Homo sapiens: one gene and its partners. The protein of the gene in region 4 purifies or fractionates together with the protein of the main gene of each other region. This does not show direct contact. Each region holds a gene or a part of one and is shown on either strand. Other genes may lie near its edges. The genes, in order: DNAAF11, DNAAF10, ADISSP, PPP1R7 and TTLL12.

What was found.
Region 1: the proteins of PPP1R7 (region 4) and DNAAF11 purify together in Homo sapiens (affinity purification with mass spectrometry; one large-scale study listed by BioGRID and IntAct). This does not show direct contact.
Region 2: the proteins of PPP1R7 (region 4) and DNAAF10 purify together in Homo sapiens (affinity purification with mass spectrometry; one large-scale study listed by BioGRID and IntAct). This does not show direct contact.
Region 3: the proteins of PPP1R7 (region 4) and ADISSP purify together in Homo sapiens (affinity purification with mass spectrometry; one large-scale study listed by BioGRID and IntAct). This does not show direct contact.
Region 5: the proteins of PPP1R7 (region 4) and TTLL12 fractionate together in Homo sapiens (co-fractionation; one large-scale study listed by BioGRID). This does not show direct contact.

What each region holds. Positions count from the first base shown.
Region 1 is NC_000008.11:132,668,420-132,673,132, forward strand, and holds part of DNAAF11 (dynein axonemal assembly factor 11), read right to left. Parts: intron 1-4,713. UniProt on the Homo sapiens protein: Involved in dynein arm assembly, is important for expression and transporting outer dynein arm (ODA) proteins from the cytoplasm to the cilia. Acts as a crucial component in the formation and motility of spermatozoal flagella.
Region 2 is NC_000002.12:68,140,010-68,144,722, forward strand, and holds part of DNAAF10 (dynein axonemal assembly factor 10), read right to left. Parts: intron 4,707-4,713; coding exon 4,576-4,706; intron 1,787-4,575; coding exon 1,685-1,786; intron 1-1,684. UniProt on the Homo sapiens protein: Key assembly factor specifically required for the stability of axonemal dynein heavy chains in cytoplasm.
Region 3 is NC_000020.11:3,754,868-3,758,453, forward strand, and holds part of ADISSP (adipose-secreted signaling protein), read right to left. Parts: intron 741-3,586; coding exon 602-740; intron 1-601. UniProt on the Homo sapiens protein: Adipocyte-secreted protein (adipokine) that acts as a key regulator for white adipose tissue (WAT) thermogenesis and glucose homeostasis at least in part through activation of protein kinase A (PKA).
Region 4 is NC_000002.12:241,166,946-241,171,658, reverse strand, and holds part of PPP1R7 (protein phosphatase 1 regulatory subunit 7), read right to left. Parts: intron 4,615-4,713; coding exon of another isoform or gene 4,591-4,614; exon of another isoform or gene 4,485-4,590; intron 3,984-4,484; exon of another isoform or gene 3,922-3,983; intron 1,879-3,921; coding exon 1,792-1,878; intron 1-1,791. UniProt on the Homo sapiens protein: Regulatory subunit of protein phosphatase 1.
Region 5 is NC_000022.11:43,169,249-43,173,961, reverse strand, and holds part of TTLL12 (tubulin--tyrosine ligase-like protein 12), read left to right. Parts: intron 1-135; coding exon 136-247; intron 248-1,407; coding exon 1,408-1,559; intron 1,560-2,061; coding exon 2,062-2,143; intron 2,144-4,393; coding exon 4,394-4,462; intron 4,463-4,713. UniProt on the Homo sapiens protein: Negatively regulates post-translational modifications of tubulin, including detyrosination of the C-terminus and polyglutamylation of glutamate residues. Also, indirectly promotes histone H4 trimethylation at 'Lys-20' (H4K20me3).

The DNA of each region.
Region 1 (4,713 bases), on a different chromosome or scaffold from region 4:
AGAAGCTTCATGGAGGAGGAGTCTGAGCTGAATCTTTTTTTTTTTCTTTGAGACAGAGTCTCGCTCTGTCGCCCAGTGGCGCGATCTTGGCTCACTGCAAGCTCTGCCTCCCGGGTTCACGCCATTCTCCTGCCTCAGACTCCCCAGTAGCTGGGACTACAGGCACCTGCCACCACGCCTGGCTAATTTTTTTTTTGTATTTTTAATAGAGACGGGGTTTCACCGTGTTAGCCAGGATGGTCTCGATCTCTTGACCTCATGTTCCACCCCCCTCAGCCTCCCAAAGGGCTGGAATTACAGGCTTGAGCCACCGCGCCCGGCCCTGAGCTGAATCTTGAAATGTGAGTAGATGTTTGTTAGATAAACCAGGAAAGGGCACCTTAGGCCATCGTGGATGACATGATGCACTTCTCAGGTCCCTCTTCAAAACTGAAGGATTAATTCCTCTAGCTGCTGGGGGCTCTGTTGACAGACAGCCCTCTGCTGCCCACCTTCTTCATGAGCTGTCTCAGCGAAGAGATTGTTCAGCCAAGGTCATGGCCTTTCCTTTCCTGGGAAAGTCCACATTCAATGACTGGTTGATGTAGGGGCTATAAAGGCCCAGTTCTTCACCCCAACTTGGGCAAGTCAGAAGGTTCATTCCAAGTTTAGATCTCCTGGTTGGTTTCCTAAGGCCTTTGTTAGACATATCACAGCCCAACTTCCCCCTCTGCTCAATTTTGATTTCTTTCCTACCCACCCCAACAATGCTCCCTAATAAACCTCCTGCATGCTAATTCCCACCTAGATATCGGCTTCCTGAGGAGCCTAAACTGGAAGAGTTGATACCAGAAGTGGTGCATGAAAGCAGATGCTAGCTAAGATAGGATTTTGGAGTCAGACTACATGTTGTCACAGTGGCAAGGACACTGTTATTCCTGGTAGGCAGAACATAGATAGTGCCTGGCCCAAGGCAGTTATGCAATTGTAAAGACTTGCACTGGTGTTGAACAGAGATAGGATACAAGTGGAAGGGAATGTACTAGTAAGTGTAACATGTCAGGTGTTAGAGAAATGTGAGAGAAACTGTAACTTAAAGGACAATTATATTGTATTGTATAAAGGCTGCTGCTAAACACAACTGATCAGGAAAGGCTGAGAGAGGAAGTGTGAAACCAGAGGACTGGACTGGGAGCACTATGAAGAGGTTTTCATTTCCTGAAACCAGAGGACAGAGAAAGCTGAGGGCTAGGACCAGTACTTCATCATAAGATTAGCAGTGACGTCAGGTTCTGGACATAATAGAGTAATAAAACAGGGTTTACCCTCTAGCCTAAAAATCTATACAAAACATACAAAAGTAATTTTTTAAATTTGGGCATAAGGAAATAAAAAGGAAAATTAGAAAGTATTTTGAACAGAGTTAAAAATTACAAGGAGGCTGAGGCAGGAGAATGGCGTGAACCCAGGAGGCAGAGCTTGCAGTAAGCTGAGATCGTGCCACTGCACTCCAGCCTGGGTGACAGAGCAAGACTCCGTCTCAAAAAAAAAAAAAAAAAAAAAAAAATTACACAGAAAAGCAACATATCAAAATTTGCAGGATACAGCTAAAACATTACTTAGAGGTAAATTTATAGCATTAAATACTTATAGTAGGAATAAAGAAAGGTCTCAAATATTGGCTTCCACTTTAAGGATCTAGAAAAAGAACAAATTAAACCCAAAATAAGCAGAAGAAAGTAAATAATGAAGATTATAACAGAAATCAATGAAATGAAAAGCAGAAAAAAATAGAGAAAAATTAATAAAAATTAAAGCTGGCTCTTTAAGAAAATAAAATTGGTAAACTTTCAGTCAGACTTATCAGCAAAAAAGAGAGAAGACACAAACTGCCAATATTAGGAGTGAGAGAGGTAACATCATATGTATTCTACAGATATTATAGGTAACTTTATGCCAATAAATTCAAGAACATCAATTAAACGGGTGAATCCCTTAAAAGACACAAATTACAAAAGCTCACTCAAGAATATATAGATGAGCTGAACAGCCCTATATCTACTGGATATGTAGTTAAAAACCTTTCTTTCCACAAATAAAACTATGGCACAGATGTCTCCTTTGATTAATTCTACCAAAAACTTAAGGGAAAATAATACCCCATATACACAAACTCTTGTAGAAAATTGAAGAGGAAATAATACTTCCCATTATATTCTATAAGGTCAGAATTACAACCAATCAAATGCATTACAAGAAAAGAAAACTACAGATCCATGTACCTCATGAACACATATGTAAAAATCCTAAGCAAAAAAATTTTGCAAATCAAATCCAACAACATAATAAAAAAATTATACATTATAACCAAGGGGGGAGTTATCCAATGTATACGAGGTTGATATAATGCTCAGAAATCCAAGTAACATACAATATTAATAAACTAACAAAGTGATAATGTCAGTAGAGACAAAACAGCAGTTGACAAAATCCACCATCCATTCCCAATTTTAAAAAGACAACAACTCGGAAAACCAGAAATAAAAAGGAACTCAACTTGACAAGGAGCATCCACAAAACACCTATAATCAACATTATATCGAGCAGAGAAAGACTCTTCCCGTAAGAATCAGAAAAAAAGGCCAGGAAATCTGTTCTCACCACTTCAACATTATACTGAAGGTTCTAGCAATAGGCAAGGAAAAACAAGGCATCCAGGTGGTAGAGAAGTAGAATTATTTCTATTTGCAGATGATATGACTGTCTACAGAGAATATCAAATGGAATTCATATAAAAAGCTAATTGAATAAGAAAGTTTGAAAAGATTGCAGAATATAAGATCTATATGAAAAAATCAAGTATACTTCTATATACTCAACACTTACAATGGCATCAAAAATATGAAGTACTTAGAGATAAATCAGAAAAATATGTGCAAAGTCTGTCCATTGAAAACTTCAAAAATATTGTAGACATTTTGTAATATCTAAATAAATGGAGATATATCCCTTGTTTTTGGGTCAGAAGATTCAATATTGTTAAGATACTCATTCTCCCCAAATCGAGCTACAGATTTAACACAATTCAGGTCAAAATCCCAGCAGACTTATTTTTGTACAAATTGACAAGATACTACTGAAATTCATATAGAAATGTAAAGGATCTGAATACAACTTTAAAAGATTAAAAAATTTAGAGGAAAAACACTACTGGATTTCAAGACTACTTATTACAAAGCTCCAGTAATCAAGACAGTGTGAAATTGGCACAGAGGAAGACAAATAAATCAATGAATCAGAAAAGAAAGTCGAGAACACACATATACAAGCCACTGGTTTATCCAAAGGTTCAATTCAATGGAGAGAGCATAGTCCTCAACAAGTGGGGCTGGTACTACTGGATTTCCATATTAAAAAAAAAAACACACACAACAACAATGTAATCTACATCTCACATCATATACAAAAATTGAGTCAAATGAATGATGGAATAGCATAAAACCAAAAATTATAAAATTTCTAGGAAAAAAAAGAGAAAAATCTATGTAAACTTAGCAAAGATTTCTTGGATATGACATCAAAAGCAAGATCTATAAAATAATAAATTAAACTTCAAAATTTAAATCTTCTCTTTCAAAATAATTAAGAGAAGGAAAATATAAGCCATAGGTGGGGAGAAAATACTTGCAAATCATGTATCTGATGACCTATATCCAGAATATATAGAAGACTCTTAAAACTCAAGGATAAGAAAACAAATCAATGTATAAAATGGGCAAAATATTTGAAGACATTTCACCAAAGAAGATCTATAGATGACAAATGTGTCCCAGTAATACAAAATGCATTCAATAGTATAAAATTTAAGAATAAAGACACTAGATCTTCTCTAAATCACAACACACACCAGATTAAATGCACAGAGAGGAACTAATTCATTTTCCTCTTGCCACCATCCCCAGGCTCAATATTGGTCCTCCTGAGCAGACACAAACATCAAAAATAGTGGTCTCTTCAACTTTACATGAGAATTTGCACCATGACCTCTCCTTTTCTCACCAAACTGTCTCTTACTCCTAAGAGACAATATAGCAAACATACACAAGAGTGCGGGCTCTGCTTACCATCCCAGATATACCACTTACTGTGTGGCACTGGGCACGCTGCTTAACCTCTTTGTGCTCCAGATTCCTCATCTGCAAAATGGAGGTGATGATACTAGTGTCTACCTCAAAAGATTTTTGTGAGAATTCAATGAGTACACACACAGAGAAACTTTCAGAACACTGACTAGAAGGCAATAAGCAGCTCAATAACTGTGAGTGAGCTATTATTATCATCCTTTCTCAGGAGCCCAAATTTCTCCTTTAGTTGAAGGAGGTTGAGAATTGTGGAAAGAGCCGCGAAAGCCGGGAAGCTCGTATCCTAGGTTCGACGTCTCTCCTGACTGACGGGATGTGACACTGGCTGAATCAATGTTCCCCTCCTCATCTCTAAAATGAACAGGTACACTAGATGAACTCTCGAGCACGGTCTCTCTAAAACCTGTACTAATGACATCCCTGCGTCTTTTTTTGGAAAATACAGGAAAGGCAGCGGAAAAAAGGGCACACAGGAGCAGTCAGGAGATGTTAGCAAGAGGCAGAAGGCCATTTATTGGGAAGCACGGGGGAGAGAGAACATGTAAAAAGGGTTTGTGGCACAGCAAAAGAGGACCACTTTCTCCACCCACAT
Region 2 (4,713 bases), about 170 Mb from region 4:
AAGGAAATCTGAAATAAGTTGTAGCACACTGTGACATATTTTTAGTAGTGTGGATGATCATACCTGAAGTAAGTTTATAATCTGTGGTTAAACTCATCCTCCTGGAATTAATTCAAGGATTTTTTTCCAAGTATCTCTTGCTGAGGAAAGAGTGTTAAGTGAGAAGGAGGCCCCTGTCACTGTGCTATGCTATCTGGGCATCCTATCCCAATGCTTTCATTGCCCCTAACTTCGTTTTTCTCATAAACTCCAGCCCTGCATTTCCACTGTGGGCCCCACCTAGATGGTACACCATCATCTTAAACTCATGATGTCCCAAAATGACCTTACCATTTTCCTTTACAAATTATCCCACCCCTTGTATAATTTTTTCAATTAATACCATCATTCACCCCACAATCAGCCTGAAAACTCAGTCATCTTGGACATTATCCTTTTCTTTGTTCTTCATATCCAAAAACATTCCCAAATTCTATGTATTCTGCATAATATTATCTTCTGAATCATCCACTCTGCTCCCTTCTCAGTGCTTGTAACTTAGGTCTTCCCTGGAATACTGCAAAGAGCTCTTGAACTCATATTCTCTGTACCACTCATCACTCCCGCTAAATACCACTAGTTCATTTTCCTAAAGCTCGGATTTCATCTCTTCCTTGCAAACACCATCAAAAACTTAGAACTATCTTCAGGCCGTCCTAACACCTCTGGCCATTGTCCTGAGCCATCTCTAAGGATATTCCTACTATTACTCTCTTCTACCGTTGGCCCTCCCTATCCATGGGTTCTGCATCTATAGGCAACCAACAATGGATCGAAAATATTTGGAAAAAAATTTGCATCTACACTAAAAACGTACAGACTTCTTGTGCTTGTCATTATTCCCTAAACAATACAACAATGACTGACACAGCATTTATATTATATTAGGTATTATAAGTAATCTAGAGATGATTTAAAGTATACGGGAGGATGTGTTAAACCATTCATGAGAACTCCGCCCCCATTAATCACCTCCCACCAGGCCCCACCTCCAACACTGGGGATTACAATTGGACATGAGATTTGGTGGGGACATAGATCCAAACCATATCAAAGGGCAAATGTCAATTAGTCTTCCAAAGTCAATATTCATTTTAAGTAAATTAATGAAGGAATACAGTTATCAAAATTTATAAGAAATAACTTTGTAATGGCAAACTATTTTCTAGAAAATAAACATACTCCGTATATAGCGTAATGTATGATTTGTTAGGTAACTGTTTGCATTTGAGGCTTGGTTTATCCCCATTAATGGTGTCTGACTTTAAATTAGGTCAATATTATCTAGTTAAACAGGAACACATAATAATAAGCACAATTCTCAGCACTTTACATGTAATTAACTCATTGACTCTTCATGACAACACAACTAAGTAAATTCTATTATTAATTCCATTTTATAAATGAAACATCCAAGGAACAGATAACTTTGGTAACTTGCTCCAGGCCACATGGCCAATAAGTAGCAGGTGAGAATTCAAACTCAGGCCCCAGAGGCTGACATTAACCACCACGTGTATTTGCCTCAGTAAACTATTAGAATAATCCACAAAACAGACCATAAAGAGACTACTGTGAAATTTCTTGCAGCATCGTGCTTTTTACCATCTGATAATTCAAATGCAAGAATTCTTCAATAATTTACCAAATGCCACAGTCCAACAGTCTCTCTTGTTTTCTCCTTGTACAGGTTCCATATTAGCAACAGGATCATCTTTTTGCCTTGGGTCCCACACCTTCACAGTTCCTGCCATGCATAAAAGTGAGTTGGCAAAAATTCAAAAGTAAATGATTATGTTTCTTTTCTACATTCTTCTTCTATGGCTTCCTGTGTACATGGCAATATGACAGATGTTATGACATCTGAAAATATCCACATTGTTCTGACTTCTAATTGGGTAAGTTGTATTTAATATCAGAGATATCACCCATATGTAACTATCTGACTTGGTTTCCAAATTAATAGACACACAGAAAAGCCAACAAGTGTTCCTAAGTTATCTACGAGTGATGACTGACAAGGCAAATGTGAATGTTACGTAATTCAAATCATGAGCCTAAAATGAATGTGTTATTTTTTAGGGAAAATACCAGTGTTGTTTTAATTTTTACTTTTTTCCTTATTACCCATTTTAACCATTGGCATGAATACACTCTAATTTTGAATTAATGGTTTCTTATGTGAGTTCTAGAATACTATTTCTTTTTCTTTCTTTCTTTCTTTTGTTTTGAGATGGAGTCTCACTCTGTCGCCCAGGAATGCAATGGCGTGATCTTGGCTCACTGCAACCTCCGCCTCCTGGGTTTAAGCGATTCTCCGTCCTCAGCCTCCCAAGTAGCTGGGACTACAGGCATGCACCACCACGCCCAGCTAAATTTTGTACTTTTTTAGTAGAAATGGGGTATTGCCATGTTGGCCAGGCTGGTCTCAAACTCCTGACCTCAGGTGATCCACCTGCCTGGGCTTCCCAAAGTGCTGGGATTACCGGCGTGAGCCACTGTGCCTGGCCTAGAATACTATTTCATATACAGTTAAGTTTAATTTTCCTGTGGCAATAGTGAAGAGGAAAATGTTAAATAAAATTAACAAATTCTCAATTTAATTTCAACCCCCTTGTTTTAATTCATGTTATGGGACTACTTACTAAAATAGTGTCACTACCTACAAAAAATGCAAATGCATGTAATAAAATGGCTAAAAGGCAAGTACCTGAGAATAAGAAAAGGGCAAAAAAAAAAAAATCCTTAAAAGGAAAACAACTCAGGAAAGGTGGAGGTACAACATTAGATTTATCTCCAGGGATAAAATAAAGTTGATCATTAAAAGGCTGCTTTACTTTAATATTTATTTATTTAGAGACAGGGTCTTGCTCTGTCACCCAGGATGGAGTGCAGTCGTGCGATCATGGTTCACTGTAGCCTTGACCTCCTGGGTCCAAGTGATCCTCCTACCTCAGCCTCCCAAGTAGCTGGGACTATACCACCATGCCTGGCTAATTTTTAGTTTTTGTAAAGATGGGGTCTCCCTATGTTGCCCAAGCTGGTTTCAAGTGATCTTCCCACCTCAGCCTCCCAAGTGCTGGGATTACAGAGATGAGCCACTGCACCCACCAAAAGCCTGTTTTAAAAAGAAAAAAAAAATCCCAGATATAGAGATAAGAGATTATCTTTCTCTATAGGATTCATACAAATTGATAAGATCTCAGCCCACTTCAACCTCCCACTGCCAGGTTCAAGCAAAACTTGTGTCTCAGCCTCCTGAGTAGCTGTGATTACAGGTGTGTGCCACCACACCTGGCTAATTTTTGTATTTTAGAAGAGACAGGGTTTCGCTATGTTGCCCAGGCTGGTCTCAAACTCCTGGTCTCAAGTTATCCGCCCGCCTCAGCCCCCAAAGTTGTGGGATTATAGGCGTGACTGTACCTGGCCCAATAAATTTTTTAAAAAATCATAAAATATATTTATTCCAAAAGAGTTACACATATGACAATACTCATTTACTCATTATTTTTAAGCCACTCTCATAAGACAACAAATAAAAAAAGCAAACCAAAGGCTTATAAGGGAATGGTTAAGTACGGCCATATGATGGAATATTATATAGTCATTAAAATGATAACTGTGGAAACAGCAACATTTGCATATGACAAAACATTAAATAAAAAAAGTTTCTAAGATACAAATTCATATTCACACTTATAACTATGCAAAATTATATATAAGACCTAAAAGGAAAAGAAAAATCTAATGGTTGTGGTAGTGTGGTAGACTGAATGTTATTTTTCCCTCTATACTCAATATTGCTTTTATGATTAAAAAAAATAAGTGATTTCTAAAACACAGCTGCTCTTGAGTACCCACTAGAAAATTATATCTCACTTTTCCTTTAAAGCAATTTCCTCATGGTCTTGAGCGGCCATTAAACAACTAGCCAAATCAATTATAATAGGTACCAAATTTCTCATGTACCCCTCGTGAAGCAACAACATTTCTGACTCTATTAAAGTCATGCAGTACCACTTCGGACACCAAAAGACCTGGCCCTTGTTGGTCACTGCAGGGTGGAAGAGCTGAGTTGGTGCCTTTGGAACTCTCTATAATGCTTAGTGGATGGATCACAGAACTTCAGTTTTCAAGCAGCTGTCAATATGACAATTTTCACAAGTACTAATTCTGCCTTTTAAAAAAAGAAAATGAAAAGCTGCCACCCACATTATATCGTCAGCTGCCTCAAAAACCTGTAAAGACATTTTAAATCCTTCAAGGTTCAGAGGAAACCATCATTGTTAGTAGCTGAACCAGCTCAACACTAAAATAGTGTTAATAAGTGCTATGAATCTATCTCAAAATAGCCAAAAGTCTGAAACAATCGAGAGATAAGCAATCAAACTTGTCTGTTAAAAAAGTAGCAGCAAGACTGTTAGATTTAGGGAGTCAAGGTGACTGAAGGGGATTTTTTACTCAGAGAGGATGTACTGCTGCATAGAGATTTCCATTAAAATAAATAAACAAAATACATAGAATACAGGGACTCACCATCTCGGCTGCCAGTCACAATTTCAGGTGCTCCTTCTCCAATTCCTAGTCCACCTATGCCATCTATGGCATTTATAATTTCTTTATGGCCCTTTACAGAATATACTGGCATCTCTGGAGCTTCTAAATTCCTAAACA
Region 3 (3,586 bases), on a different chromosome or scaffold from region 4:
GGCAGGGCAGGGTAGGCTTTGAGCAGATCCGATGGCAAGAGGTAAAGGCCTGAGGGGTGTCAATCCATTGAAGGGCAAGGTCATGAAGAGGCTGGTGACGGGGACATGAAACTGAAGCTGGAGCTCCACGAAACTGACACCCTAGCCTCTGCCAGGCTGGGAGTGGGGCATGGGGCAGGGCCTGAAGTGAGCCTGATAGGAACAGCAGCCTGAAACCCAAGGTCTGGGACTGGTGGGTGCTAGGAGTTATCCACACGGTGTGTGTAGCTCCAGCAGGTTTTTCTAGAGGGTTAGGGAGGCAGGAGGGAAGGCTGGAGGCTTCAAACCAGTTCCTCAGCAGCTCCCATCTTGGTTACTGCCCCACGGAGGTAACCATCACACCATGGGCAGGTACAGGGAAGTATGAGCTCATGGACTTCTGTTCAGGACAGGGAGCAAGGCCTGGAGTGTGGGACCTGCCATGCTGCCACAGTGCAAGCTCACAAAGAGGTGCCACATCCCCGACTTGCTGAGCTGCCCATCCACCCTAGTTGGAAGTAAGGGAGCACCCCATGTTCTCACTCCCACACCCATCCAGGCCCTGCTGGAGGAGGGGACGCACCTTCAGGGACGGGCACCACGCTGAGGAGCTTGAGGTGCAGGCTGGGGACAGGTGCCTCGCGGACATCCTTGCTCAGCCTGTGCACTGGGGGCAGAGTGAAGGTAATCTCATACCTGTGCAGGATCTTCAGGAAGCCAACCTACAGCAGGAGAGGTGAGGGAGGGAGGCACCTTCACTTCCTGCTTCCCGCAGGCCCACCCAGTTGTGCCACCTATGATCCCATGCGCCCCAGCACCTGCTTCCCCAGAGAGCCCAGAAAGCCCAACTCCCTCCATCACTCCAGCTGATCGACCCCCAGCCCAGTGGCCCCAGCCCTTTCACAGACCCCTTGAGGGTCCCAGCCCTACAGCTTGGCCAGCAAGATCCTCAGCATCTGTCTCACGGGCCCCAAAGTCCTCAGTGGCTCATTTCATAGACAGGAAAATGGAAACCACAAAATGACTGGCCAAAGGCTATGTAGTGTGGCCAGGGTCAAGTCCTCCCTAGACTTCTTGGCCATTCCTGCTATGCATGGCACCCAGCAAGGCACCACCCACTGCCTACAAGGGAAAGTTCAAAGTCCCATGGGTCATTCACCTGTCCCCATCACTGCCAGTATCCCAGGGTCAGGGATGCTGGTCCTCCATTCGCTCATAGGATGACACCAGGCCACAGATAGCGTGGGATGAGGGATGGGATCAAATTAGAGATATGACAGTAGACCAGCTGTGTCAGCCCAGAGCTGGCCCACAGGCCTGGCACCAGCCACTGAACTGGGGCTCCTGGCTGCCCTGCTGGCACTGGACTGGGGATGCCTGCCTGCCCACTCAAAGGCTGTGTCCAATGGCCCATACTCACGACCCAAGCAATTTCTGTTGTTCATTCACAGTGCTTGGTGACAACCACCCTCTGGGACAAATGCCATTCTTGGAAACTCCAGTAGTATGAAGGGTCACAAGCCAGGGTGGTTGCTGAGCAGGGGGGCTGGTGGGGGTGCCACGCCAGCAGGCAAAGGGTGCCTGCTGTACTCCCAGCTTGCATGGGCACACAGAGTCCTGCTCACAGTTACTGGGGCTGGGCAGCCCCATCCCTGGGGGCCAACTGGGACTGGCTGCAGAGAGTTTTAGCCATTCAATGGGACCAGGTTGATATTGCTACATGACAAACTTCAATCCATGTGCCCCCCTCATGCTCTGCTGGTAGGGGGCACATCCCTCAAGAAGGCTTTCTGGCTGTACCTGCTAACTGTGACCCTGTGACCCAGGGGTACTACTTATAGAATTTTCCAGGGGAAATAGAGATGTGCAGAAAAATACTCTTCGCTGCCCTATTTATAACAATGAAAACAAAAACAGCCGTAACACCCAGGAACAGGGAGCCAGCTAAGTCAATGATGACACGTATCATGGACCAGTAGGCAGTTGTAAAATCTCGTGGAAAATTATTTACTGACACAGGTAGGAGACAGTTCACAACAGAAGCAAGCAAAAACCAGTGTGGACACGGTGAGGCCAGCTTTTGTTTTTGGAAACAAAGCTTTTTAAAATAAGCTGGATCCATCACCATAGTGTTTTCAGAAAAATAAATAAATAAATAAATAACATTTTAAAAAGCTGGAATAAGCCAGGTGTGGTGGCTCACGCCTGTAATCCCAGCACTTTGGGAGGCCGACACGGACGGATCACGAGGTCAGGAGATCGAGACCATCCTGGCCAACAGAGTGAAACCCCGTCTCTACTAAAAATATAAAAAATTAGCTGAGAGTGGTGGCACGCGCCTGTAATCCCAGCTACTCTGGAGGCTGAGGCAGGAGAATTGCTTGAACCTGGGAGCTGGAGGTTGCAGTGAGCTGAGATGGCGCCACTGTACTCCAGCCTGGAGACAGCAAGACTCCGTCTCAAAAAGAAAAAAAAAAGCTGAAATAACACACATCAGAATATTAACCATGGTTATTTTGGGATAGTATGACTGTGGGTACTTTTAAATTTCTTCATATTTTCTCTGTCTTCCAAATTTTCTCATGTCTATTAAGACATGAGTGGATTTTGCAATGAGGGGAGAGAGCTATTTTTAAGTGTTGGTTTGTTCCATTTACTCTCTTGGGGAAGCTGTCAGCTGTAGGACAAAGAGTGGGAACTTCAGAGTTGGACAGAAATGGATACAAACCTGGGCCCCCCAGGTTCTTTTTTGTTTGTTTGTTTGAGACAGAGTCTTTCTGTTGCCCAGGCTGGAGTGCAGTGGCACAATCTCAGCTCACTGCAACCTCAGCCTCCTGGGTTCAAGCAATTCTTCTGCCTCAGCCTCCCAAGTAGCTGGGACTACAGGCGTGCGCCACCACGCTCAGCTAACTTTTGTATTTTTAGTAGAGACGGGTTTCGACCCATTGGCCAGGCTAAACCTGGGCCCCTTTTGAGCAGCGCAGCAGACCCCCCACTCAGGGCCATCTCAATGGGCCAGACCTCCCCCGACCCAAGGGCACTCCTGTTCAACTCTGGACCCCTGATTTATTGACCAACCTGAAGGCCTCAGTCTCCATTTTCCCCAATCCAGCTCCACCAAGCAGAAAACAGGGGGTGATAATACTACTTCAAAGAGCCTAACTGAGCCAGAGATTTGGCAAAGAAGGGTTAAAAAAAAAGTTGCACCTTGTTATTGCCATAGTTAGCTTCACACCTGTATCACATACATACATTCTTCCATTCTCACACCAACTCTAGGGGATGTGATTGTCTCCACTTGAGAGAAAAGAAACTCAGGTGACCTTCCCAAGGTCACAGAGCCAGAATGGCTGGCCTAGACCTGAACTCAGGCCACTGGCACCACAGCCACGACACTGCCTTCCATTGCTATTGTCTGGGTGAAGCAGATGACAGCAGTGGCTCTGCTCATCTTGATCTGGATGACATTCTAAATGCTCTCATCTCATTGAAATCTCACTGCCTCCCATCTGACAGATGGGGCAACCAAGGCACAGGGAAAGGCACAGACATGCCTATAAGCCCGGCT
Region 4 (4,713 bases):
TGACAATTATAGTTGGAAGGTTTCAACATTCTCCTCTCAGTAATTGGAACAAATAGGCAGAAAAATCAACAAACATAGTATGTGGGTTATCAGAAACTTGTTAAGACTGGTTTTCTATTTCTGCCTTAGAGATGAATGATGTGCCTCTCAAATGTGATATGAGCATGGAACTGAGTTTGAGAATTCCTGGTTTGCAGCTTTCCTTCCTGGAATGCAATTCTTTACCTGTAAAATGGGGTAATATGACCTTATCCACATGGTTGCTGTGATAATTGGATCAGAATGGAGAGAGGTATGGACACCATAAAGCGCTGTGCAAATTCTGGCTATTTTTTACTATCTTTGGTGGCCTAAGGAACAGGATTCTTCTGTGTTACAGGGTCAGGCACTACCTGGCCCCTAGTGATTGATCACCAGCCTGCCTGCCTCCCTGCTAGCTGTGGTACCCAGGTTGGCCCCTGCCTGTGGTCTCAGCACTCTGTGCCCCATGCTCTGTTCCTAGGCAGGGCATGCAGAAGGAATCGTTACGCTTCAGGAACATTGCTTCAGTATCAGCTCGTTTCCCAAACCTGCTCCCTAATTTTTTGCCAGGTGCCCTTTCCCTATCACCTGGTCCTCTGTCTCTGGACTCCTTATTCCTGTTGTTTGGTTTCTTTGTGTTGTTCCCTGGCTTCTTTGCCAACTCCCTATGCACTAATTCAACCAGCCTACCACCAGCCACACCTTCCTTCAAGGGTGGGCTGCACATAGACCCACCTGGACTCATTGAGGCTCCCCCTGGCCTGGTACATCTTTATCACCTGCCAAATTCTGGCTCTGATCTTCCCAGACATGCTCTGGTATCCCATCATGACACTACTCAAGACCCAGTGCCACTAATAAGGGGCAAGGAACATTTGCAGCAGGCCACCTGTGTTCTAGGGAAACTTGGATGACCTTTTAAAGTGGGGAAAGGAGAAAGCACAGGACATAAGCAGGGTCAGCAGCACGGCTAGAGGAGAGACAAGGAAGAATGATGCCTTACACTCAGCATGAATCCTGGATTAGACTGAATGTATCTGAGGACACTACTACATTCCCAGCATCACAGGGTGACACCTGTGCCGCAGTCTCTGCAGGGCCACGTGCTAGCGGAAAGGCAATAAACCTTAGGAGATTTCTCTAAGGGAATCCTAGCACTGAAGACTTCCACTCGGGGATCATTTCCCAACCCCTTTAGAGGAACTGCAAAAACTTCTTATATTCTGTTTCTCTTCCTGCTGACTCCACAACACTACTCCTGAAACCATACCTGTGACAAGACAAATACAAGGCAAATTCCAAGATGACTAACTGCAGAAACCCATCCAACATTTCCTTCTGTTGTGCTGGAATATATCTGTAGGGAATGCGTCTGCCTCTCTGCTGAGGTTTGCAAACCATTTGGTCAAATGACAATTGTAGGTTCTACCCATACCTAGATCAGGGCTTCTCCAACCTTTGTGTGTACTGCAATCACCCGGAGTCTTGTAAAGCAAAGATTTTGACTCAGTTTTCATCTGGGCTATGGTGGGGCCCAAGATTTTGCATTTCTAACAAGCTATGTCAATGCTGCTGATCTGTGGCTCACGCTGAGGAGCACAGACAACACCCAATACAAGTCTACAAGAGCGCCCACCCCAAATCTCATGATGTGCGGAGTCACTCAGCATGAAGGCTTACAGGAGATTCTTGTATTCATTCATAAGACATTTTAATCAGTGAGACCAGTTTAGTCAAAGTGTCATCAACCCCAGCGTGTATTAAACTTACCCAGAACTCTTGCAGCTCTGTTAGATGGCTGATATTTTCAATCTTTTTGATTCTATTTGATGCAATGTCCAACATCGTGAGTTTGTTCTAAAAGAAGGAAATAAAATGTTTCCTGGATTACCTCTGATCAACAGTGATTTGCATGACCACGCAGGCAGTGTCAAGTGCTGACCTTAGGGCTGCAGGTGCACTGCCCTCTCTGCCCTCACAGGGTAAGGGCATGCTATGGAGGGTGACGAGACCTGCTTGCTTCCTGCAGCCCTCCCTGGGACAGTGTTTCCATCAGAGCCTGCCCAGCTATCTCCCTGAGCTCTCCTGATCGCTGGAATTTGAGACTGTGTCAGACTCCAAGCCCAGTCCTCCCAGATCCCTGTCCATTGAGACAGACCTAGTGAGACTGATGGTCCCAGGAAGAACCGAGTAACCCCCTGACGCTCTGAAGAAAGGCTGACAATTGTAGAAACATTTACTTAGTGCTCATCACGAGGAAATGTACGACCAAGTAATCTTCAAAACAAAGTTCCTCTCTTCATTTAGGGATGAGGAACTTGGGGCTCAGTGGGGCTAAGAATCTGCCCAGGCGCACAGTAGCAGTGGGAGAGGCAGGACTCTCAGACCCCAGGCCTACACTCTTGTCTGGGAAAAGGGTCCCGGGAGCATAAGTGCAGAGAAGGGACCCATGCTGAGGACTGGGTGCTGGGCCTGCTGAGCACCTGCTGCAGGGTGTGTGCCCCCACTGGGAGACAAGAGTGTGTTTTTAGGATCTTCTACTCTGAAAATGCACATCAGTTACTCACTTTCCAATACATGTTAGCTAAGCCTGAGTAATAATTTTGTTTCTCATCAAAAGGAAAACATTTACAAGCTGTCTGAGAACCTCTGACAAAGTTCATTCCCTTCTCTGCCCTCACGCTCTGCTCCCTCCTGAGTCCCTTCCTTGGTTTTCTACTGCATTTTTGGTATTCCAATTCCAAAGCCTTCTAAGTTTTAAGGGAAAGTTAAAAAATTTCTCAAAAGCAAATACTCCTCCCCCCATCTCCCCTGAAATGTACCCAGCCAGTAGCTTTCCCAATTCGAAAGCGCTATGGCTGTGGCCTGGGAGCTCCTCTGGCTGTACCACCCTTGCTGCCTTGGCGCCCAGCACCCCAGCTGGCACCAGCTGCGTGTGTCAAGTCTGACGCCACTCTCCAGCAGGCTATACGTGGCATGCTGCCTAGGAGGTGCCTTCAAACCACCCCATCTCGGTGCCCTGGTCAGGTCTGCTCACAGAGTATCAGGCTCAACAGTGTGCGAGGGAGCTCAGTGGGGCGGGTTCAGAGCAAAAAGGACTGCAGGAAAATGTTGCAGAAGACGCGACTGTGGGTAATCCAACGACACACCGCCTGGCGGTGGGGCTGGAACAGGCCTCTCTAGCACGGACGGCAGCTCTCCCCCGCACTCTGCACCATTCTGAGATGCTCATGGTCATCTGGTATGCAAGCCCAGAAACTGGCAAAATGAAAGTGGCCTGGAACACACGCAGGATTTGAGCCTCGTGAGGTCCAAGCACCAAGGCTCAGCACGAGGGGCAGAGCCGGTGGTGGGCTCTGGCTGTCAGAACCGGTCCATCACCTCTGAGCTCAGGGATCCATGTAGGCACTCAACACTATTTCACGTTTTTCTACAGGAGCTGGACAATGTTGTGAAAACTCATCCAAAAGCAAACTAGTAAGAACTGCTTAAGAAACAGAAAAAAAGAATGGAACAGGGTGAGGAGAGCAGGCACACCAAAGGGCATGACACAACGCCACAGAAACTACACCTGTCAGGGACCACTGCAAACATATTCTAGACCAACGGGAGAGCCCAGAGCTGGAGAAGACACGAAGAACAAGACAGGAGTCGTGAGACACTGGGATGGGGGGTGTCGTCTAAGTTCCCACCTGGGACAAAACTACATTTACTTTCTTATTTCCCACCATAAAAATAAATTCCAGATAAATTAAGAAACAAAACTTAGGAGAAAATATTTGTCTGATCTTTAGTTGAAAAAAATGGCAGAAGAAAGACTGTCACATTTGATCATGATGAAGATTACAATAACGTAATTACCTTTAATACAACAATTTTTTTTTTTCTGTTTTGTTTCAGAGGCCCAAGAATAATCTGGTGTTTAACCAAGATCACAGTGTAGCACTTCTACTGGTAAAATTCTGAACCACACTTCTTTCCAGTTTTCCTGGGACTGGCTGCTTATGTGAACTGTGCTGCAGATTGTCTGTCTCCCGGTGGATGCTTGGTGGTGACTGCAGGGCCTTGGCTCAGGGAGGCCAGGGTGCAGGAGGGCACCAGGGCTCCCTGCTGCGCACCCCACCCGGCCCCAACCCCAGCCCCTGCCACACAGTCCTCAGCGCCATTCCACTGCAGGCACGTCTCGACTTACCACTCTAAACTACACAGGTGAACACTTGGTTTGCATGCTAGTTTTATAAACTTTTAATTTCAATGCAAAGTCAAAGGAAGGTGACCAAACTTTCCACAGGCAAATTTGAATTTTTCCAAAATTTTATGCAGGTGTTGGTGAAATTTACTGCTGCCAACTAGGCCCTGGGGTTGAGGCACAAAGGCCTTTAATGAGATTGAAACACTATGTTTATAGACCAATCTGGTTGTATTTGCTGGCAATTTAACAAAACAGAAAAAAACAAGTAAAATTGAATGAGAAAAAGTCTTTTATTTGTCTTGAACACCGCACTGGGGCAGAGCAGGGTGAGCTGGAGGCAGCTGAGGAGGGTGGGGGCTCTGTGAGCACACTTCCCCTCAGTACGTGAGGCTGTCCTGCACCTGAGTGAGAAGGGCCGGGGAGGGAGGGAGGAGCATGAACAGGTGAGGACAGGTGTGGAAAGCAGGCAGGGAGGAATGGGGGAGGAGGAAGCTGCTCAT
Region 5 (4,713 bases), on a different chromosome or scaffold from region 4:
CCTCTGACAGCTCTCTGGTGCCCCCTCAGCTCCCAAGGAGAAGTGGGCTGCCCTCTTCTGCCTCTGGGTCCTGGGGTGGCACCATCTGGGAACACAGGCCCCAGGCGCCCCCCAGACAGCCCTTCTGCTCCCCAGGGGCGAGGACAACCACTGGATCTGCAAGCCCTGGAACCTGGCGCGCAGCCTGGACACCCACGTCACCAAGAGCCTGCACAGCATCATCCGGCACCGAGAGAGCACCCCCAAGGTGGGCCCCGCAGACCAGGAGCCCCAGGGCTCAGGGCCCTGGCTGGACAGTGAGAGGTGGGGCTAAGGGGACCGAGCATCATGGTCCTTATGGACAGGTCCAGGCTGGGCAGGGTGGCTTACACCTGTAATCTCAGCACTCTGGGAAGTGGAGGAGGATCACTTGAGCCCAGAAGTTTGGAACCAACCTGAGCAACATAGGGAGACCTCGTTTCTACAAGGGAAAAAACTTTAAAAATTATCTGGGCATGTTGGCACACACCTGTAGTCCCAGCTTCTCAGGAGGCTAAGGCAGGAGGATCACTTGAGCCCGGGAGGTTGAGGCTGCAGTGAGCTGTGATCGCGTCACTGCACTCCGCCCTGGGCGACAGAGCAAGACCCAGTCTTTAAAAAAAGAACTGTCCTGGGTGCGTCTAATCGCAAAGTTCCTACCACATAGTGTGCCAGGTATGGCTGCCCAGCAGGGTGAGGTGGCTGAGCCTGGACAAGGAGCCTCTCAGAGCCGTGGTAAAGATTCATAGTGAGGGGACATCCAGAAGCAGTATTGGGATTGCAGGACACAGGATCTGCCTGGACTGTGTACATAGTCAGAGGCTGGCGGGAAATGCATCATGAGGACGATTGTCGTGGAGACTTCAGGCCATGGGATGGGGGTGGATGGAATTATGGGTGAGAATTTATATTTCATTTCAATTAAAAATGGATATAAAGACTTTGCTTCAGGGTGCGGTGGCTCACACCTGTAATCCCAGCACTTTGGGAGGCCAAGGTGGGCGGATCACCTGAGGTCAAGAGTTCGAAACCAGCCTGGCCAACATGGAGAAACCCCTTCTCTACTAAAAATACAGAAATTAGCTGGGGGTGGTGGCGGGCACCTGTAATCCCAGCTACTCAGGAGGCTGAGGCAGGAGAATCGCTTGAACCCGGGAGGCAGAGGTTGCAGTGAGCCAACATTGTGCCACCGCACTCCAGCTTGGGCAACAGAACAAAACTCTGTCTCAAAAAAAAAAAAAAGACTTTGCAGCAACTTAGGCAGGTTTGAAAAGGCAGAAGGAGGAGTAAAGTGCAGCCATGTCTGTGCCCCCTGCGTGGCTTTGTGTGCTCGGGAGCCCCAGGGGGCTCTGTCCTGGCCACCAGCGAGCTTGCACCTGTGTCCTCCAGGTTGTGTCCAAGTACATCGAAAGTCCCGTGTTGTTCCTTCGAGAAGACGTGGGAAAGGTCAAGTTCGACATCCGCTACATCGTGCTGCTGCGGTCAGTGAGGCCCCTACGGTTGTTCGTGTATGATGTGTTCTGGCTGCGGTTCTCCAACCGGTAAGTGGAGGGCCGGCTGGGTCCAGGGTCGGGGAGCTGGGTGACCGGGTGGAGGTAGCGGGTGGGTGATGGGCCCTTTTTGGAATCAGAAAATGTTGTTGGAAGGCACCCTCCATCACTCACCCAGCTAGCGGCCCTTGGAGCCCATCTCCCTTGGTGTTAATTGGCGGTGACTTGCCCTGCCCACCTCAGAGTTCTGGTGTTGCCCACAGTAATGGATGTGAACATTCTTTGTAAAATGGGCACCAACATGAGAACCAGGTGCCATTTTTATGGACCTGCAGAGGCTTCACAGCTAGCACCTCACTCACCTCCACCCCAGCTCAGTGGGGCTGTGGGGCTCCCCCAGCCACACAGACAAGGGAACAGGCTCCCGCCTGAGCAGCAGGTGGTCCTGCCCTGAGCCCTGAACCCCTAGTTGGGAAGGCTGAGTGGGTGGCACCTCCCTCGCAGGGACAAGGCCGCTCAAGAACCCATATGTGTCTGCACACTTGTCTTCCAGGGCCTTTGCACTCAACGACCTGGATGACTACGAGAAGCACTTCACGGTCATGAACTATGACCCGGATGTGGTGCTGAAGCAGGTAGGGCCTGAGGGAGGTGCAGAGCAGGTTCACACAGAGGCCAGGGCACACCCGACCCCACCCCGCCCACACTGCCTCCTAGGAGGACTGGCACACAGGCCAGTCCCAGGAGCCGCCTCCTGAGTTCCTGCTATGGAAGGCGATTGTTAGCGCTGCCATCATGAGCCAGGCTGGGTTCTGTGTTGTCTCAGGTAGGTCTCCCCACGGCACAGAGGGCCACTGGCTGTGTTTGAGATAATGTGGACACAGAGGGGGATGGGTCCAGCAGCAGGTTGAGACAGTGTGTTCCCAGCCGGGGCTTACTCCTCACCACCACTTCAACCGGAAAAGCAGACCACCCTGTGAGTGCCAGGGCAGGCGGGGGCGGGGAGGCCCCACCTGGTCCGGCTGGCTGCTGGCCCGTGACCCTGCCCGGGTCTAGGACCTCCTGTCCTCCCTGGTGCACAGTGTTGAGCGGTGCCCCATGCAGTGGGCACTCAGTGAATGGCAGCTGCACCATCTGAGCACCTGGAGCTCAGGGGCATCTGGACAAAGGCCCTTCCAAGGTGGGGGCGAGAAACCAGAGCTGGCCAGCCAGTGTACGTGGACAGGTAGGCACAGCCTGCACAGAAGCAGGAGGCCAGCTCTGGGTACAGGAAGGAAGAAAGGAAGTCCTGGAAGGCCTCTGTGGCCTGGCTGGTTAATGAGTGTTTCAGATGCACAGAACACCTACCCCACCCTGCCTGTCGCCAGCCTTGCAGGTGCCGCGGACTCCCCATGCAGCCAGCCCCAACGCTCCCCGACCCCTGAACGTGTGGCTGTCATTCCCAGGCATGTCTTTGGTTCTTTTCAGCAGGAGTATGTTCCTGACCATTCAAGCTGCTGTTTTGCTTACTTAGGTTTTTTGTTTTGTTTTGTTTTTTTGAGAGACAATGTCTCACGCTGTCACCCAGGCTGGAGTGCGGAGGCATGATCTGGGCTCACTGCAACCTCAATCTCCTGGGCCCAAGCCATCCTTCTGCCTCAGCCCCCTAAAGTAGCTGGGACTACGGGCACGTGCCTCCACGCCCGGCTAATTTTTTTGTATTTTTAGTAGAGACGGGGTTTCGCCATGTTGCCCAGGCTTGTCTGAAACTCCTGGACTCAAGCGCTCCGCCTGCCTCAGCCTCCTAAAGTGCTGGGATTACAGGCGTGAGCCACCATGCCCGGCCTCCTACTTAGGTTTTTATGTAAATATCATCTTATTCAACGGATCCTTCTGCAGCTTGCTTTGTTGGCTGAGTGGCGTGTTTTGAGGTTTTGAGGTTCGGGCTTGTTGCTAACTGTGGCGGCGATTGGTCATCTGAGGTCTTCACTAATGATAAATCATGGCGCGTGAACATGCGTGGAGGCACCTGGCCATGCCCATGTCCGAGGAGTCCTCTAGGAGGACTTGGAGAAAGGGCCCTGCCATGCACTGGTGACTATACCAGCACACACTCCCCACAGGGGCCGAGTGGTCCTGTTGCTTCTGTCTGTCTTATCCTTGCCTGTGTTGAAGCCTACTCCCTAGGACCCAGACCCCCCAGCAGGGCCCCAGGACATTGTTGGAAGTCGCCCTCAGGTTCTGAGCCCCTCCCTTCTGTACTGTGGGGGTCATCCCGGGAGTCCTCTCCTGGAGCTCTGTGCCTGGGGAGGTACGTCCAGCATGGCATGGATGGCGGGCTTCCATAGGGGCCTTTCCTGGCTTGTTCTTTTCTGGGAGAAACCTGAGCCGACTGCCACCTTCCTCGGGTGTGTTTTGGGTAAAGTCTTGAGGCCAGAAAGATCTTGCATCCCTCAAGCACTCTTGAGCTGGTGCTGAACCAGGGCACAGGCAGGTCCCGCGGCGGAGTCTTGAGCTCTGCCTCCTTCGCACTGTACTGAGCTGAGTGTGAGGATGGTGCCAGCCCAGGCCCTGCAGTTTCTGGAGCCCTCGATGTTCATTGTCTCGCGTGAGCCTCACAGCTGCGTGGCAAAGTCAGTTTACTGGGCAGAGCACATTTTCCCATTTCACAGAGGAGGAAACAGGCTCAGAGAAGTTAATCCGTTGGTCCAGAGTCACACAGTAAGACCTGGAGCCCAGACTCCATCTCCTGCCTCCTGTTTGGACCCTGAGGGTTCGGGGTTGGCTGCCTGCTCCTGGAACCCCCACCCAGTGTCAGAAGCTCCTGGTCCAGGCAGTAGCAGGCTGCCTGCTCCCGGCCCAGCGGAGGCCTGTACAGAGCGTGATGGGCCCTGTGTCTGTTGCAGGTGCACTGTGAAGAGTTCATCCCCGAGTTTGAGAAGCAATACCCAGAATTTCCCTGGACGGACGTCCAGGTAATTCCTGTCCTGCACACCATCGCAGGCCGGTGGGGCGGGTCCCGGGCTGGGGGCCTGCAGGAGCTGCTCCCTTCCCTCTCTGCTGGCATGGGCTGGGAGGGACCTTTGTCCCCTGCAGTTGGTCATTCTCCCCAGAGGCTGGCAAGACAGCGTGGGCTCCCCTCCCTTCCACCCTGGGCATTTGTGGGTGCTCCTGAGAGGGAGGGAGCTGGAGGGGCATGTGGGGCACCCCTGGGACAGCCAGAGGG